3 linked regions of the Homo sapiens genome follow. Each later gene encodes a partner of the first gene's protein in a complex. Links are inferred from orthologs where the notes say so. Each region holds a gene or a part of one and is shown in the gene's direction. Other genes may lie near its edges.

Region 1 (6,604 bases):
CAGCCACTTCACAAAAAATTATTTTATTCCATCTCTCAGTGATGATGACATGATTGCTTTTTGGTAATCATTTACCATTCTGATTTTATTTTTTGAAGTAAATTGTCTGAAGTAATAGGTTCTTGGAATTACAGCGTGCCTTGCTTTTTTCTTAGAACTTTATTTAAGCTTGTCTTCCAGCATTTAACCCGAGTCCCCTCTTTCGTTTGATCTTCTAACTTTATTTATACAACAGTGCTTAATGATCCTGCACAATGTGTTTCTTTTTTTTTTTTCCTTCTCTACAACCTCCCCCCCCACACCCACCCAAAAAAAAATTCTGTCCAGTATGGTTGACAGTACTTTTTATAACCTCAGCAAGGGGGCTGCATGGGCAATTTTCTTCCGACATGACAAATGCAAACACCCAAAACCCAACCCTGAGAGAATCACTTCATCCAGTTGAAAGGAAATTTTTTATCTCTTTCAAGGTGACTCTTTTGCCACTGAAACATGGTAAGGGGCACGACTCTTACCTTCTATTCTTGTCTATAGAAGTGGCATTCTTTACATTGCTTTATTCTGTCTCCTCCCTTCTCGCATCGGCCTCTGCTCTTCCCCAAACTTCCACTGAACAACCCTTCCTGGTAGTTGGGCCCCATGGCACCTCCATTTGCTTTGAGTGTGAAGGGTCACTGTTCACCACCACCAGGCTGCAGCAAGCCTGTGTTTATTGAACATGAACCAGACCAATGGTGGAGAGAATTATAATCACACTTCTAAATACTTGTCAGATCAGCCTACAGCCTAGTAGAGCACTTGAGCTAAACCATGGATATTTTATTCTTCTTGAAGGCTGTATTTTGGTATCAACATAAAAGAAGAAAAAAGAAAGAAAACTGAAGATAATTATTTCTAAGTAGGAATGGAACTGGATAGTGGACTAACAGACTCTTCAAGCCTTCAGAAATATTTTAGCATCTAAGATGTGATTTAATGGGTGAGAATGGTCCTCTAGGCATTGGCTAATTGATAGACACATTGATCACTGTGTGTGCCTGGCACTGTGCCTTGTGAATTTTTTTTTTCTAAATAAGAATTGACTCAAAGATTATTTCTTTTCATTTCTTACTTTGAGAAATGTTTATGTACTTGCCATTTGATTTGGGGCCCTAAATGTCTTTGAGTTTAAAATATGGATGTCACTTGAAATCTTTCAGGTACTGTGCATAGCCGGAAGCTCAGTTATATGGATCGATATTCAGGAAAAAGGCAGGCCAGAGGCTCCAGCAGCTCTCTGTAGGTCGGATGGCTCTACGTGTAGAGAGCGTAGAGGGGTGCAGTTTTCTTTCAAATTTTTCTAAAGCTTCCTGCATTCCACCCCTTACTGCAAAGCTCACGTTGCATTGAGGGAGGGAGGCTATGGATTGGAAAAGGTGGGAGAACTGAGAACTGTATGGTGGGAAGCCATGCAATTAAAAAACTGACTGAAATTATTACCTGATTTCATAATTGACAGAATATTTAATTCAGATATAGTAAATTGACACACCTCTACACAGAGACAATTATGACTGACTGTATAACACCTGACAGAATCAATTATAACTGACTGTTGTTTGATACCTTTGTACAGAAATAAATGAAACAGACATTCAGAACAGAGACGGCTGCTGCCTGTGTGCCTAAGCCTGCCTTAATTAAAAGAAAATAACCAGTAGGCGATGTTAAAATGTCTTTGCCTCGTGGTTTCTAGTTCAGTGTGTTTCTTTAAGTCCAAAAAGGGTTTTATAAAGAGTAAAGTTGAAAAGAGATTTTTGGTTTACTGACATGGAACTAAAATATGTGAAGTAGAGTTAGTTTCCTTAGATGGGAGAATACTCCATTATTTTAATAGAGCTAGCATTTTATTTGATCAGTTGACTTTTATATAAAATATTTAAGAAAGGTCAACCTACAGATGATGGTCTAGTTCATCCCATATAGAAAAGAATGTAACTTTCATTATTTTGAGGTTTTAGATTCTAATCAATAGAAATCAACTTTTAAATGAGCAGTTCATTTTGTAGTCTGATAAAATATTTTGTGAATAATTAGTATCTAGGCTACCCTTTTTTTCCATCGTTTTCATAGGGGTTAGGGACAGAATATTTTTGGTAATTAACATATAACCACAGGGAATCAGAGCATGTAGAAAGGATCAGAGTAAATAAGCTTTATATACACGTTCCTCGAATGTTATTCTCAAGAAAAGTTTAAAAAGGAGATTAGCTTTGCTGATGTATTAAGATGAGTGATTTCTGGGTGATACTTCAAGCCATTAGAGTATATTTCAGTGACGCACTTGTGTGTAGGAAGAGCATTTCCTCCCCGATCTCGACAAAGGTTGGCTTTGTGGTGCTGGTGGCGGAGACAGCAGTTACCAGGGCCAGTGGCATCTCTGTGGACAGGGATGGGATGGCTGCGGATCTTCTCTGGCTCTTGCCTAATGGCATGTTGGAATCTTTTAACAGTTGTTATTGGGCACCTGACCTGCAGCACCTGAGGTGATGGCGTCGTTACTGATAGGCTGACTCTCAAAATCAAAGCAGGAAAAGGAATCAGGGTTTTACTGGCCACATTAACTGGCCTCCACCAGTTAACACCTGTATTTTCCCTTGAGTTCTAAAGTGGTGGATATAGTATTGACAGAAACAGGGTAACAGTTTAATGTGAGGCCTAACGTGGGTGGCCCAGGTGCCTAAAGGGGGAAGAGAAAAACCAGGAAGGGGTGACTCCTTCCCCCCACCAGCCCCTGTCCCTGACGCAGCCTGTGACAGCTAGTCCAGTTCTGTTTCCTAGAAGACCTTCCATATGTTATTGATTAAATTCTCTTTGGGGAAGCAAGTGGGAGCTTTTATCTGCATCTCTAACTGGCGTGGAATGGTGCCTTGGCCGTATTGACTGGCTATGGGATATGCTGGCGGTCACAGTTGTCTTTTAGGAGGAAGAGCACCGAGTGACGCTGGTTGTCATTCTAACTCTGCTGTGTGGCAGCGTAAATAGTCCCCTTTCTAACCAACCTGGTGGGAAAAGTCAATATCCCATCAGCAGAGGAGGTAAACACATCAGGAGCTATGTCCTCTCTTTTCCTCCCCTGCTCCGTATTACCGCAGCTCTTTAAATGTGCTCTCCCCAGTCATCAGATGCATTTGTGTCATTCACATGCACGGGGTTGCTGGCCTGTGGCTCTGGCCTGCCGGGAGGCAGCCGACACTGGTTGGGGCCATTGTTGTTTATTCCCAGACTCAGATCATTAGAACTTTCAAATTGTCTTTCTGTTGCAGCCCCCCTCTCTTTTTCCACCCCTTTTGGGCATTTTAATTCTCTATAAAACCTGTGGTTGTTCTTTAAAGGACAACTTATGTAATTCAGAAAAGGTTGTGGAGAGCAAATGCGAATGTATAGCCAAGAAACAAAAATCTGGAGTCTGAGTTTTCGTTTTCCGGGTGTTTTGTAGACTTCCCGTGTTGCTGTTGTTGGAGGTTTGCTTTCTGTGAGTGGCGCGCTCTCCCCTCCGTGTTTCCTTCCTGACCGGTTCCTATCGGGAGGTGCTGGGCAGCCTTGCTGCTCCCAGGCCCTTTGGCACAGGCCAGCATCTTATGGGGGCGGAGGCCTCACCTCAGGATCAGCTGATGTCTGAGGCCTGCAAATTTCTATGTGGGAGTAGTGATGTAGTGGCAGGGGGAGTGGGCAGAAGTGAGCCTCTCCTCAGGTGCGGGCTGGGGGTTCTGGCTACCTGGGTTTGCGTGTCTACAACTCTGATTACCTGCTGTGTAACCTTGGGTAAGTGACTTAACCTCCCAGTTTCCTCAGCCATCAAATGGGGATTGGGGGTGGGGGGGGCGCGGGGAAAGCAGCCTCTCCAGACACCTTACCAGGTTCCTGAACACAGCGTCATCCCCCACGTGATCACTCTCTTCACCCAAAAGATCAGACCTGAGCATCACAGCCCCACTGCTCCTTTAAAAGAACAACATGTAGGGCCGGGCGCAGTGGCTCACGCCTGGAATCCCAGCACTTTGGGAGGCCAAGGCAGGAGAATCACTTGAACCCGGGAGGCGGAGGTTGCGGTGAGCCGAGATCGCGCCACTGCACTCCAGACTGGGCAACAAGAGCAAACCTCTGTCTCAAAAAAAAAAAAAGAAAGAAAAAAAACAACATGTAGAAGTAGCAGGCTCTGGGAAGGGAAAGGAGAGGGGTCTTTTCTCTGGCTGGTAGCATCCTGCTCAGAAGGGAAAGGCCAGGGATGAATGGGTTAAAGGAGCAGGAGTGCCGCATACCCTGAGTTCACACAGTGTGGACAAAGAAGAGCAAAGAAATCTTGGCCATGGACAGACAGGTGCCCTCGGGGCCGCTCACCTCTCGCCTCTTTCAGCAAAGGAAATTTTGTTTAGCAGAGGGACTTGGGCTGGAGGGACTAGAAAATGCTTACTAGGCCCAGCTGATCTGGGGAGTTGGGGCTGGAAGGCACCAGAGGCCATAGCTCCCTTTGAGACTAGGTGTTTCCTGCCACGTCCAGACTTCGCAAGCAGTTGCATGCATGTGCTCGCAGCGCCGGTGAAAGTGGCGTCTGCGAGTAGAGCTCACCTTGTCTGCTGCACATGAGGGTGCACCTGCAGTTCACATCAGTAGAGGGTGGCCCTGTCCCCCAGTGCACTGAGTCAGCTAGGTGCTGAGAGGCGGACAGACAGGGGAAAGGAAGAAAAGCTTTCACAGAGGAATGGTCGGCGGGGGCTGCATCTGACTGGCCCCAGGGGTAGACCAGAGATAAGATGGTGGAGATACAAATGGAATCAGCATCCCCTTCTCTGGTGGAATACTGAATGTTCTTTAAAGAAACTACCTGAGACTTCTAATCTCTCTCTCTCTCTTTTTAGATAAATTGAAGAAGCAATTTTTTACCCCCAAAGTTCTGCAGGACTACAGAAAACTCAAGAACACAGCAGAGCAATTCTTGTCCCGAAGTGGCTACTCCGAAGTGAATCTGAGCAAACTCTTCGCTGGTTGTGCCGTGAAATCCTAAGGGAATCCCAGGAGTAACCAAGGAGGGGGTAGTTGAAAAATCCCAGCTTCCTCTGTGCCTCCACTCTGGCCCTAAATGCTCCTCCAGCATCTGTTTCTCCCTTGGGACTGTGTCTCATGTTTGTGTGAATGTAGACCAGGAAAGGGGGCTGCAAAAATGTTGAGTCTAATGTTCGTAAGCATCATAGAAATTCCTGTCTTCATATTAAGATGTACTGCTTTAAAACACAACTCCAGAGCCCCTCCCCAAGCTCCCCTCCCCAAGCTCCTGAAGACCCGGTTTCTGAGGGAGGGAAATTGCTACTTGGATTGAGAGTAGCTGGAATGTAAGTGACCCCAGGCTTTGCCTCAGGGCCTTTAGCCTATGTCCCCCCCACATAAAGAGAGCTTCTCAGAGCCTGACTGAAGAGCTGACGTTTTGCTTTTTCATATGCCAATTAAACCCGGTCTAAATCCAAATGCTTCTCCAGCCATCCAGGAGTGGCTGTCCTTTTCAGTCTTGTCTTTTATATAGGTAGCTGAGGGGGAAGATTTAGAAGCCTTGCACTCACTAAATAGATTAAACAGAGCAGGCTTGTTTGTTGAATTGCTCCAAAGTCCAACAGACACACACTGAGCAGGTGTTTTACACTCACATTCCCTTTTTGCCCCTTAAATAGAAAGTGCAGGTAAAGGTTTATACAACAAGAAAGCACATTGAAAATAATTTGATACTCTAACAATCCATTAACATGTGTAGGGGTTACGGTGAGGATCACTGTGTTGTATTCAGAAAAACGGGGAGAGGGATGCTTAATTGGCCCTGGCGCTTGCTATTTTTTTCTCATTTCTTCACAATAGGACCGTCTTTGGCAGCAGCAAAATGTATTTCAGTATGGCAGTCTTTCCTCTCTTACATTATTGGTAAGATTATACTAACAAAATGTTTCCCCTTGTACAATTATGCTGTGTTTTTAAAAAACATTGACCTGTGTGTTTTTATAAAAGAAAAAGTATGTTGTGCCTTCTTCTTAAGAATAAAGTTTTCTAAAGGGAAAGCAGTTGTGGTGAATCCTTACCAGGTGCAAAGAGTTGACTAGAGAGGCAGCAAGGAGTAAAATGTGAGTAGAGCCAGTTGCTGTGGCACACACCTGTAGTCCTGGCTACTCGGGAGGTGGAGGCAGGAGGATGGCTTGAGCCCAGGAGTTCAAAGCAGACTGGGCAACATAGTGAGGCCCCCACCTCTAAATACATACACACGTACATACATATACATATACATATACATATACATATACATATACATACACACACACATATATATATATACACACACATATATATACACATATATATATATATGACTAGAGGCCATCCCCTTTTCAAACCTCAGCCCAGTTTCTTCATAGCCACCTCTATCAGAACCCAGCTCAGGAGTGCACAGCATGATATTTGGTCGAATGTTCTGAGAAGCATTCAGAATTTCTGTGACTTTAGGTCATTTAAGAGATGAAGTATGGTTTCTTACGTGCTTTGCTGACTTAGAGAGCCAAGCCAAGAGCCCAGCAGCATCTCTTTTTGA
Region 2 (7,035 bases), on another chromosome or scaffold:
AAAACCACCTAGAAGGGTGTAGAGTAACAAAGCTTCAGCTAGGCTGGTAGAACAAGTTCCAAGGTTGCCTTTCAATGTATGAGTTGGTAGATGTCCTCATGGAAGCCCTAGTAATGGAGGGACACGGGCAATACTATCAGTGATTGCCCCAAGTCACTTCACTTTGCTAAAACGCACATAACCATTCCCAGCAGCAAAAACTTGAACGATGTAAAGGAATTCAACTTAAAGATATTCATGGTTCCTTCGTTAGAAGCCTTCTTCAGGTTGGCCTTGACTTGCCTAAAACCTCAGTGAGGACTTGAGTAAAGGGCAGACTTGGAGATGGGGTGGGGTTCATGCTGATTCCCTGGAATTGTGCTATGGGGTCTCCTGTGGCCAGATGGAAGGCCAGATTCAGCAACCAAATATCGGAAAATTGGCAAAGGTTTTAGAAGGTTTAAACTGGCCAGATGTCCAGGCACCCTTCCTGCTTCTGTAAAATGACTGACTTTAATATTTTACAATGTGCTGTATTTTCTCTTCTTGGCAAGTGAAATGTCTTAAACATAATACTTTTTTCCACTTCTGGGATTGTAGTTCTGACCTGTAAGATAGAAGAACTTGGCAGCGAACTCAAGGAACATTACAAGATTGAAGCTTTCACTCCTTTGCTAGCCCCAGCACAGGTAAGAGTTGTTCTAATAGTTCTCACTAATTAATATTACGTTTTTAAATCGATGACCAAGAGGCATCCTTCTTGCTTCCTTTTTCACTTCTTGTCTGTGTTCTAGTTTGAACATCTGTCTTGGTTGAATTTGGGAAAATGGGCCCTTCTGAAGAAAGATTTGTAAGTGCTGTCTGGTTTTGTGGCCAGAGAGTGATTTTCTTCCCACTTGGATTAGAGTCTTGCACATAAGCAGAGACTCAAGGCCTTGTTTCCCTTGGTGGTGAGTCAGGTAGCTCCCCGGGGATTTCCCACAAATAGAAGCATTCACGTATCGAGATAAAAGGACAGCAGCGACGGTGGGGTTTTCAGAATCTTGTTCTCTGGACAATGACTCACAGTCTCTCCCCTGGTTTGGTCTCTTGTTATAGACAAACTGCTGCCAATAGTATCTTTATATCATAGTTTAATCTGGCATATATACCAGTGCTTTCTCTCTAGAATGTTTTCTAATCTAAGGGGAAATATATTCTAGAAGTTTCTTTAAAGTACCTTTGTCAATGTTTACATTCAAAGAATGATCAGTTGGGGAAGTGATGCAGAACTGTGTCATAGAAGGAAGTGTTAGAGGACTTGGAAGGAAGTAATTGAGGGAAGGCAGGGAGGCACAATCACTGGGAAAGATGAGACTTCCTCTGTTTTCTCCCAAGAGTGGGAACAGAACAGAGGAAGCCATGGAGACAGAGATTTTAGCTCAATTAATAAAGAACTTCCTGTTAAGAGGTTGTATGGTATGTGGCTAAGGATATGGCTCTAGAGCCAAATTTCTGGTTTCAAACCCAAGCTTCACCCACAGTTTGACCTTGACTAAATTATCTAACCTTTCTGTTGCTTGTTTTCCTCATCTGTAAAATGGATACAGTAATATCCACCCGATGGTTGTTGCAAGGATTAAATGAGTTAATACATATAAAATGCCTAAGAATACATTTTAGAACAGTGCATGGTATTTAGTAAGCTCAAGAAATGTTAGCTATTATTAAGTAGTTATAGCTGCCCAAAGATGCAGTGGGCTGCCCTGGGGTGGTGAGGACAGGGTGGGGTAGGCATCCAGGGGCAAGTTCCCCTACACTAGAGATGCTCACACTTAGGCAGCCTCCTAGGAAGGCTCAAGTGCTGGGTGGATGGGTGGACAAGATGCCCTTTCAGAGTTCTTCCATCCTGAGAGTCAGTGATGACGCGGTAGTCACCTCAGGGTCAAAGCAATGCCCTGCCAAGAAATGTATTTGTTGTTTGCAGTTTGTTTTGCTATTCACCCTATCGACTTCAGATTTTGAGCTCCTGCTCCAAAGACTGTCATTCTTATGCTGTGACCTTCCTTTGGTAGGAGCCTGTCACTCTGCTGGGCCAGATTGGCTGTGATAGCAACGGGAAGCTGAACAACAAGTCAGTGATTCTCGAGGGAGACCGGGAACATTCCTCGGGTGCTCAAATTCCAGTGGATTTATCTGAGCTTAAGGAATATTCTCTGTTTCCTGGACAGGTGAGATTGGAGGAGTTCCACCAGAATGCAGGCGCACTCTTTACCCCTGTAGTGTAGGTGCTGTGCCATGCGCAGCTGCTCCTCAGTTCCTGTCTCTGCTGCCATGGGGTGCAGCTGGAGCACATGCCCCAGAGCAGACACCACTGTTGGGATTCCTGTTTCCCCCATGCTCTGACCCAGGCTCTGGGACCTGACTGCGCAGCCTCAAATCCCAACTCCCCGCTCCATGAGGTGCATGACTGTGCACAAGGTACTTAACCATCTAAACTACAGTTTCTTCACTCACAAAATGGAAATAATAATTCTTACCTCATAGGATTGTTGTGAAAATTAGATCACTTATATAGAGCATAATTATTATTACTAATGCAACGCCCTTAATTCGTTTTCTACAAAAATGCCCTAAGTTTATGATTACAGAATGAGAGTAGTTGGACAATGCTTTTAACTGCCTCAAAATAATGTATTCCAGACCTCATTGATCTCCACTGCTTAGCAATCCTGTTTGTTTTTGTCTTTCAGGTTGTAATTATGGAAGGAATCAACACCACTGGTAGGAAACTTGTTGCCACCAAACTCTACGAGGTACACAGCAGTACCCCCACTTGCCTCTTGGTTTGCTTCAGACAAAGTATGTCTGGAAGCTGTCTGTTCTAGAAACTGGTCCTTTTTAGGAGCCCATTTATTTGTTAGTCAGTTCTCCATCTGTAAGTGGGAACCCACCCCTAGGCCAGGGGTCAGCAAACCCTTTCTATAAAGGGCCAGACAGTAACTCTTTTAGACTTTGTAGCTATATGGTCTCTGTCACAATGACTCAATTCTGCCTTTGTCTACAAAAGCAGCCATAGAGGACTCTTAAACAGATGACTGTGGCTGTGTTCCCATAAAACTTTATTTAAATAGTGGGCTGCAGCCAAATTTGGCCCAGAGGCCGAAAGGTTACCTATCCCTGCTCTAGGCAACAATCCTCCAGAGATTTTCGTAGAATGCCAGGAAAAGTAGCAAGAAACCATTCTCTCCCATCCTTGCCTAGAAGTACACTGATACTTTAGGCACCTGTTTTGCTCCCACTTGTTGCTGGGTATTTTATGACAATTGAGTAGTGACCTCCCATTACCTGGGTTTCTTTGCCCTCTGAGCAGTATAGAAAAATGGCAGGTCCCATCAGATCCAGGGAGCAAGACAGAGGCACATCCTTCCCCTGCCCTCTCGCTCCTCCCCACTGTCCTCCCATCACACACCTGCACCACCCCCAACCTGGTGCCCTCCCCTTTCCTTACCAAGGTGATGCCTGGCGCAAGACCTTACTTGAGCTTTTCCCCTGTTTTTAGGGTGTGCCACTTCCATTTTATCAGCCCACTGAAGAGGATGCAGGTGAGTTTCGGTTCAAATATTGTTTTGCCAACAATGAGGATGGTAGACATGAGTCCAGGAGTGCAGTTTCCCAAGCCCAAGAAAGCTGCAGAAGCTGCTGAAGAGCAATGTGACCAAGCAGTGAGGGCGCCACCATCATGAGTTCGTAGGTTTTTTGTCACAAGACCCCTGGTCTGAGCCCAGTGAGCGTTGGTCGTGCTGTCGCCTGAGTTCTGCCTACATGAAGCATGTTGTTTAAAGACTAATGTTTAACAGGTATTTTTGAAGGTTGCCTTGGAAAGGAAAAGATGTACGATTTCAAAAAGAATTTATTTACATGCAGCATGGGCAGATGCGGTGGCTCACACCTGTATTCCCAACACTTTGGGAGGCCAAGGTGGGAGGATCACCTGAGGCCAGGAGTTGGAAACTAGCCTGGGCAACATAGGGAGACCCTGTCTCTACTAAAAATTAAAAAAAATATTAGCTGGGCTTGTGGTGCATGCCTGTAGTCCTAGCTAATCAGAGGCTGAGACAGGAGGATTGCCTAAGCCCAGGAGTTCAAGGTTGCAGTGAGCTATGGTAACACCATTTTACTCCAGCCTGTGTGACAGAGCGAGACTCTGACTCTTAAAAAAAATTAAAATTAATTAATTTTTTGAAAGTATAATGTGGCATCCTGGATTGGATCCTTGAAGAGAACGGGAACATCAGTGGAACAACTAGCAACATCTGAATAAAGCCAGGAATTTACTTTTTTATTTTTCTGGCTCTAACACTCAACCTCGAGAATCCAGGAATTTAGTTAACAGCGATATACCAGCATTAATGCCTTAATTTTGACAAATGTTCATGGTTACCTAACATGTTAAGATTAGGGGCCACTGGTGAAAGACACACAGGAACTCTGTACTATCTTCATAACTTCTCTACAATTCTAAATTTGTTCTAAAGTGAAAACTTAAAAATAACTTCCTTTTTTTTTTTGAGATGGAGTCTCGCTCTGCCCCCCAGGCTGGAGTGCAGTGGCAAGATCTTGGCTCACTGCAAGCTCCGCCTCCCGGGTTCAGGTGATTCTCCTGCCTCAGCCTCCTAAGTAGCTGGGATTACAGGCGTACACCACACCCGGCTAATTTTTGTATTTTTACAAAACCCCATAGTGATGGGGTTTCACCATGTTGGTCAGGCTGGTCTTGAACTCCTGACCTTGTGATCCGCCTGCCTTGGCCTCTCAAAGTGCTGGGATTGCAGGCATGAGCCACCATGCCCGGCCAAAAAGAATTTCTTTAAAACCCTAGTGTTATGTGGTAACTAATCTAGTTGTGGAAAGGCAAAAAGAAAGTTTGACAAACTTTGCTTCTAAATATTTCAACATAATTTCAGCACTTCACAGGGCTGAGGTGGGAAGATCACTTGAGCCCAGGAGTTTGAGACCAGCCTGGGCAATATGGCGAAAACCTGTCTCTACAAAAAAAAAAAAAAAATTAGCTCGGCATGGTGGCATGTGCCTGTGGTCCCAGCTGCTCAGGAGGCTGAGGTGCGGGGATCACTTGAGCCTGGGAAGTCAAGGCTACAGTAAGCCGTGATCATGCCACTGCACTTCAGCATGGGTGAAAGAGTAAGACACTAGATAGATAGATAGATAGATAGATAGATAGATAGATAGATAGATAGAATTTATTTATTTCAAGGTGGCCAGGTGTGATGGCTGACTTCTGTAACCCAGCACTTTGGGAGGCCAAGGTGAGAGAATTGCTTGAGCCCAGTTTAAGTTTAGCCTCCCGGCACATAGTGGGTCTGCATCTCTACAAAAAATAAAAACAAAAAAAATCAGCTTGGTGTGGTTGTGCACACCTGTATAGTCCCCACTACTTGCGAGGCTGAAGTAGGAGGATTGCTTGAGCCCAGGAAGTCAAGGCTGCAGTGAGCCATGATTGTGCCATTGCACTCCAGCCTGGGTGTCAGAGTGAGACCCTGTCTCAAAAAAATATATGTATGTATTTCTGTATTTCAAGGCATTGTTTTTTTTTTCTTTTTTTTTTTTTTAGACAGAGTTTCACTCGTTGCCCAGGTTGTAGTGCAAGGCGCCATCTCGGCTCACCGCAACCTCCACCTCCCGGGTTCAAGCGATTCTCCTGCCTTAGCCTCCCAAGTAGCTGGGATTACAGGCATGCACCTGTAATGCCTGGCTAATTTTTGTATTTTTAGTAGAGATGGGGTTTCTCCATGTTGGTCAGGCTGGTCTCAAACTCCCAACCTCAGGTGATCTGCCCGCCTCGGCCTCCCAAAATGCTGGGATTACAGGCATGAGTCACCACACCCAACCCTCAAGGCATTTTTGTAAGCACAGTGGAGCACTGTTAAGGATTAGCAACCAGATCACTGATACTAGCATGTTGTCAACACCCCATGCATGTAACAGTGGCCAGAGCCATTCTTGGAGATGACCTAGAATCAGGAGTGAAATTTAGGACCTTGTGATATTGCACATTTTATCAGAAAACACAAGTTTGGCCGGGCGTGGTGGCTCATGCTGGCGCAGGAGGATTGCTTGACCACAGGAGTTTGAGAGCAGCCTGGGCAACATGGTGAAACCTCATCTCTACAAAAAGTACAAAAATTAGGCCAGGCGCAGTGGTTCACCCCTGTAATCCCAGCACTTTGGGAGGCCGAGGTGGGCGGATCACACGGTCAGGAGATAGAGACCATTCTGGCCAACAAGCTGAAACCCCATCTCCACTAAAAAATACAAAAATTAGCTTGGCTTGGCAGCGTGTGCCTATAATCCCAGTTACTCAGGAGGCTGAGGCAGGAGAATCGCTTGAACCTGGGAGGTAGAAGTTGCAGTGAGCCGAGATCGCCAATGAACTCCAGCCTGGCGACAGAGCTAGACTCTGTCTCAAAAAAAAAAATTAGCTGGGTGTGGGCATGGTGGCATGTGCCTATAGTCCCAGCAACCTGGAAGGCTAAGGTGGGAGGATCACTCTCCTGAGTCCAGGAGTTCAAGGCTGCCATGAGCCATGATCATACCACTACTGCACTCCAGCCTAGGAGTGAGAGTGAGATCCTATCTCAAAAAAAAAAAAAAAAGAAAAAGAAAAAAAAGAAAATACAAATTTATAGGGGGCAAGGGTGGCATGCTGGTATTAGGTCAACTTCAGGTAATGAAATCAACCTGGCTGAGATACCAGGAGCCTGAGCTGTGTACCAGAGAAGCCTTTGGAAACAGTTTAACAGGTTGTTAATGAACTTTTGTACAAGGAATTAAATGAGGCACTCATGGAGATACAGAATAAGACATGGCCCTCGCCCTCCAGAGACTCACTGCTTACACTGGGGCTCACATCTCCTGTAGGCTTCTCAGAGCCAAACTTAACTTTGTCCCCTACCCCACCACCACATGAAACCTGCTCTTCACCTTGAATGCTCTGTCAGTTCATGGTATTATTACCATGATAGACTGAATCACAGCCCCAGGAATCCCTGGAACCTG
Region 3 (4,756 bases), on another chromosome or scaffold:
GAGACGGGGTTTCACCGTGTTAGCCAGGATGGTCTCAATCTCCTGACCTCGTGATCCGCCCGTCTCGGCCTCCCAAAGTGCTGGGATTACAGGCGTGAGCCACCACGCCCAGCCCCTTAAATATTATATCTTAAAGTTAAGTCATTTAAATGCCATTTATTAGTTAGGGCAGGGTCTTTTGAGTATCGTTTAGTGTTTGGAATTTGATTTTATCTTTCTTTTATAAACTATACCCATAATACAGCATCAGCAATTTCCAGTTTGGATTCCTTAAAGTAGAAAAGGAACTTGATATATGCAAAGCAATAGGATCTTTCTCCCTCTCCTTCTGTGACTTTCACCTTTTTTTTAAGTGACTTGCTTTTCTTGACTCTTTAAAAACATTTTATTTAGATTTCATAGAACAATTTTTTTTAACATTCATTTTTATTTACTTTTCCCATGGCAACCCTATGACCTAACACTGTTATCTCCATTTCATAGATGGAGAAAATCAGACTTTAAAAAGATTACCCTATTTTGTGCACATTGAAGTCTAATAAATGTATTGCTAACTGACAACTTGAAGCGAGGTATAGAAAATGCCAAGATATTATTATAGCATAAGATACTAGGTTATTTTTGCATGAAATAGTACAACTATGTTTTTCTAATCTTTGTAGCCAAGTTTATCTCTAGAAATAAAATTTATAATGGAGATATCATTATCAGTATGATTTTGCATACAATCTCTTAAAACAGATTTCAGAGCAACTAATGATCTAGTCAGAAGGCCTGAATTTTAATTCAGACAAAACCAGTTACTAATTCTATGACCTTGAATAAACCATCTATTCTCCTTAGGCCTCTGTACATGGAGGAGATTGAATTTAATGGATTCCCCAAGGTCTTTCTAATCTCTGATTCTCTGTTTACAAACTATTTTACAAACTGTAAAGCCTTCTGATTAAAATGTATTAGACAATAAACATACTTTTTGTGAAACACATTGCAAAATGCAAAATTTATATTGGATTTCCCAGTTTTTAATGAATTGGGTGAAAATTGAATGTAATAAAAAAGTTCACAAATGATTCCATTGTTAATAAAAATTATAAAACATTTCAGAAACATTTTGAAATCAAGCAGCTAAGTTAAAAAAATGAAGCAAAGATAAAAATTTGTTCTTAATGATCTATAACTCTTAAAATCAGTCTGTATACTATCCATCTGTTACACACTGGAATTACTATAAAATTAGCCTAACATGTATTAACAACTAGCAAAAGAGAATCAGAGATTCCTAGGGTGCTTAGATAAGTATTACCAGAAAAGACTCATGTTTCTGTCTGCTGGTCCGTCCACCAGTAGGGTTCATTCTAGACCATGGCAGCAACCCCTTTTTCCCTGGCCAATTCATTTTAATCTACTAAAAGATTATACATAGCTTTAATCACACCACGTCTCTTTTTAAGGGTTTTTGGTGACTCTGTGTTGCCTAGAGAATTAGGTCTTGACCACTTACCCTGATTTTCAAGGCTCTCTCAGGCTGGCCCCTGCCTGTCTTTCCAACCTCATTCCTTATTGTTTCCTTGTATGTGCCTTTCATAGTAGGCTATGTGAACTATTTAATATTTGCTTTCCCAGGACATTCCCTCTTTACCTTGCTCATGTGGTCCTGCTGCAAATATTGCCTTTCCCCTCATCATCCCAGCTTTTCACCCTCTCCATCTTTCCAGACGCAACTCAAATAGCACTCCTCTTACAAAGCCTTCCTTGATCTCCTCAGCCGAAATTTCTCTCTACTGTGGAGTGTAATAGGCCTTTATCTGTGACCCTCATCAGTTCTCCATTCTTGGTAGAGGTTTTTAAGTATATGACTTACTGGGTTGGAAATTTGAGTTAGTCAAATGTATTCCTGTATGCTGAATAGTGAATAGTTTATAACACAGTCTTTTATATAGTAAGGCTTTAATTAAATATGCAAAATTATCACTGGTATACACTATTTCTGGGTTCACTTCACCAAATATTTATTAGATACCTACAGTGTGCAAGTCACTTCAGTACGAAGAGTGAGACGTAAAAGGATTAGTTAATACAAGACAGATGAACAAAAGAAATGGAATAACTTCTCAGTTTCCAAAAACTTGATAAATGAAAATACCACCCAAGAAACCAACAGTCACTCACTCAAGCAAAATGATATTTTTGTTGTCAACTCCAACTGCAGAAGGCGAGAAGGCAGGGATTTGAGACTGTGGAAAGTGAAACTGAATATAAGGAGAGATTACTAGAGTGCATAATTTGAAATGATACTCAAAATTAAAGTTTAATGATAGTATTTGAGAAAAAATAACATAAGTTATGAACCAGGCATGTTTGTATTCAGTCACAGTGAAATTTACAAGAAGAGATTTTCTGTAAAAAGACCAAGGAAAGGCCAAGATTAGAATGAAGAATTACATTGACTTAGGTTGCTTTTTCAGTTTATATCATACTAAATGAGTGCATATGCCAGACTTACAAGTCAGCTCTAAAACACAAGTGGTATCAGGGACCAGTATCAAAATGATCAAAAATGATTTTACGATCACTTAAAAACCCACAAATATTTACTGGCCTACAATGTGGTAGGCCTTTTGCTTGGAACTGGGGATACAATAATGAATCACACAGGTCCCTAACCTGTGCCTCACTAACATACAATGTCATTCACACACACACACACACACACACACACACACACACACACACACACACACATTTGTATTCCAAACATATTTTTATAGTTTTCTAATTTTTTGTTTTGACGTAATTGTCAACCAGAATTGGTAATGTTTTGGGTATTGCCAGAATTGAGGGCTTGGTGTAGATGGGAGGTGGCAGGTGGGAGTTGGGGGCTGGGGAGGTGAGAGAAAGGTGTCTAGTATGCCCCAAGGATGAATGGTGATACCAATCACTGAGAGCAAAGGATGGGGAGAGGGGAAAGGATACGTTTCCTGTTGGGTTTGAGCTGCCTTTGAGCCATCTTAGATGTTGAGTAGGTGTTGGATATGGGACTGAAACTAGATAGGGAACTGGAGCCAAACACAGAGGCTCAGACTAGAAATATAAATGTGGGAGCCATTTAGGTTTGGGTAGTGGTTGAAGCTCTCTTTGAATGAAATGGTGTAAGTAGCTGATTAAGTGTTAGAATGCAAACAGCTAGAATCCATGTTTCAGGTATTAAGTTTTAAACAAGTACTAAAACAGCTTTTGAAACTCATATATTTATAGCTTTGCCATGCATTAATGCAATATAAATTTCCTTCCTTTACAGGTGGATGATTGTGGCTTTTCTTTGAATCATCCTAATCAGTTCTTTTGTGAGAGCCAACGTATTCTAAATGGTGGTAAAGACATAAAGAAGGAACCTATCCAACCAGAAACTCCTCAACCCAAACCAAGTGTCCAGAAAACCAAGGATGCATCATCTGCTCTGGCCTCTTTAAATTCCTCTCTGGAAATGGATATGGAAGGACTAGAAGATTACTTTAGTGAAGATTCTTAGGCAGTTTTATAACCCTTTTTCCTCAATAGCCTGTTTCCTGTTTTTAAGATTTTGCCTTTGTTGTTGAAAAAGGGTTTCACTCTGTCACCAAGGCTTAGTGCAGTGACACAATTACAGCTGATTGCAGCCTTGACCTTCCCAGCTCAAGTGATCCTCCTACCTCAGCCTCCCAAGTAGTTAGGACCACAGGTGTGCACCTCATATCCAGATAATTTTTTTCAATTTTTTTTTGTAGAGGTGGGGGGTCTCCCTATGTTGCCCAGGCAGATCTCAGACTCCTGGGCTCAAGCGATCCTCACACCTCAGCGTCCCAGAGTGCTGGGATTACGGTTGTGAGCCACTGTGCCTGGCCTTTTTTTTTTTTTTAACCTTTTTGTTTAACTTCTCTCTTCACTGCATCCCAATCCATCTACAGGCATGCACACTTATTAGGAAAGGAGGTTTGAGGTAACAACAGAGACTTTCACTATATTTTGCTTTGACAGAAGGAAAGAGGAGGAGTTTCTATTAAAATCTGTCACTTGAGTGATGTCATTTAAGTCCTATTTTAGGAGATAAAAACAGCTTTGGGGACTGGTTAAAGTCCCCCAGAAACTACAATAAAGAACAACTTTTGTTTTAACTCTTAATCACTTTGTAATTTTGACTCAATCCTTTTCTGGACCATTTTTGTTAATAAATATCAAAGTGTACATGACAGTGTCTGCGTATAATTGGGAGAGTCTTATGTCGTAACAGATTGGACATTACTTCAGTTTTAAAATGGTAATTTGGAGTATCCAACACACTGCTGATCACTAATGAAGATTTTAAACTTTTCTTTACCTTTTTTTAAGAGTTGACCTATTTGTGGTTATTCTACATCAGGCACCTTTGAGTGGCACCAGACCCTCCTGAGTGAACTGTGACTTGGGAATTAACATAAAGTATAGCCAGTTATATTTATTAAGGAATAATAGGGATATTTTATTATGTAAAATAATGGCACGTCTTATCTGCTGCCATTACTCTGGGGACAGGTTCATGAAGAATAGACAATTACCAAGCAAGAAGGTTGTACATATAAAATAAAGTGTTTATTTTACCCTCCAACTTCCATACCTTATTACTTCTGTAGTTGCTGTGAATTACCAAATAGATTTGGTAAATTAAATTAATTTACTTGAGCAATGAATAGTGATACTTATAGTAACCCCCTCCTTTCAGTGCCAGCAATAGAATTTA

The links. Proteins that work in one complex are often made in the same cells at the same time.
Region 2: the proteins of POLA1 (region 1) and POLA2 are in contact, whole or in part, in a cryo-EM structure (PDB 8G99), measured with the Xenopus laevis proteins. The link is inferred for Homo sapiens from one-to-one orthologs. Residues at the interface, in NP_001082055.1 of Xenopus laevis: Gln548, Lys551, His553, Gln554, Asn555, Phe642, Glu645, Val646, Gln649, Asn652, Leu673, Gly675, Arg676, Phe679, Lys1137, Asp1141, Pro1143, Asp1144, Ile1321, Gln1322, His1324, Asn1325, Lys1326, Leu1328, Leu1329, Arg1332, Ile1335, Lys1336, Tyr1338, Tyr1339; in XP_018112289.1 of Xenopus laevis: Met280, Tyr281, Lys282, Phe283, Met284, Phe285, Gln286, Lys287, Leu288, Met289, Ile291, Arg292, Val295, Ser296, Ile299, Glu314, Thr316, Leu320, Pro321, Gln323, Glu324, Thr325, Val326, Gln331, Gly333, Cys334, Asp335, Ser336, Asn337, Gly338.
Region 3: the proteins of POLA1 (region 1) and PRIM2 are in contact, whole or in part, in a cryo-EM structure (PDB 8G9F), measured with the Xenopus laevis proteins. The link is inferred for Homo sapiens from one-to-one orthologs. Residues at the interface, in NP_001082055.1 of Xenopus laevis: Leu842, Lys853, Ile894, Pro895, Glu896, Leu971, His974, Arg977, Glu978, Leu981, His982, Glu985, Gln988, Lys989, Asn991, Glu993, Asn1007, Asn1009, Arg1101, Asp1102, Glu1106, Gln1109, Glu1221, Asp1224, Gly1225, Asp1227, Ala1229, Leu1230, Met1233, Trp1234; in XP_018121015.1 of Xenopus laevis: Pro34, Pro35, Thr36, Glu37, Asn38, Ile39, Ser40, Leu41, Ile42, Phe44, Glu45, Ile49, Ile107, Phe110, Ile111, Leu114, Cys117, Gln118, Ser119, Glu120, Asp121, Arg123, Ala240, Arg241, Leu243, Val245, Val246, Gln247, Arg251, Leu252.

Annotation. Positions count from the first base shown.
Region 1 is NC_000023.11:24,990,907-24,997,510, forward strand, and holds the end of POLA1 (DNA polymerase alpha catalytic subunit), read left to right. Parts: intron 1-4,898; coding exon 4,899-5,044; 3' UTR 5,045-6,080; downstream 6,081-6,604. UniProt on the Homo sapiens protein: Catalytic subunit of the DNA polymerase alpha complex (also known as the alpha DNA polymerase-primase complex) which plays an essential role in the initiation of DNA synthesis.
Region 2 is NC_000011.10:65,278,959-65,285,993, forward strand, and holds part of POLA2 (DNA polymerase alpha subunit B), read left to right. Parts: intron 1-579; coding exon 580-668; intron 669-2,033; coding exon 2,034-2,189; intron 2,190-2,711; coding exon 2,712-2,774; intron 2,775-3,520; coding exon 3,521-3,563; intron 3,564-7,035. UniProt on the Homo sapiens protein: Accessory subunit of the DNA polymerase alpha complex (also known as the alpha DNA polymerase-primase complex) which plays an essential role in the initiation of DNA synthesis.
Region 3 is NC_000006.12:57,642,627-57,647,382, forward strand, and holds the end of PRIM2 (DNA primase large subunit), read left to right. Parts: intron 1-3,301; coding exon 3,302-3,532; 3' UTR 3,533-4,224; downstream 4,225-4,756. UniProt on the Homo sapiens protein: Regulatory subunit of the DNA primase complex and component of the DNA polymerase alpha complex (also known as the alpha DNA polymerase-primase complex) which play an essential role in the initiation of DNA synthesis.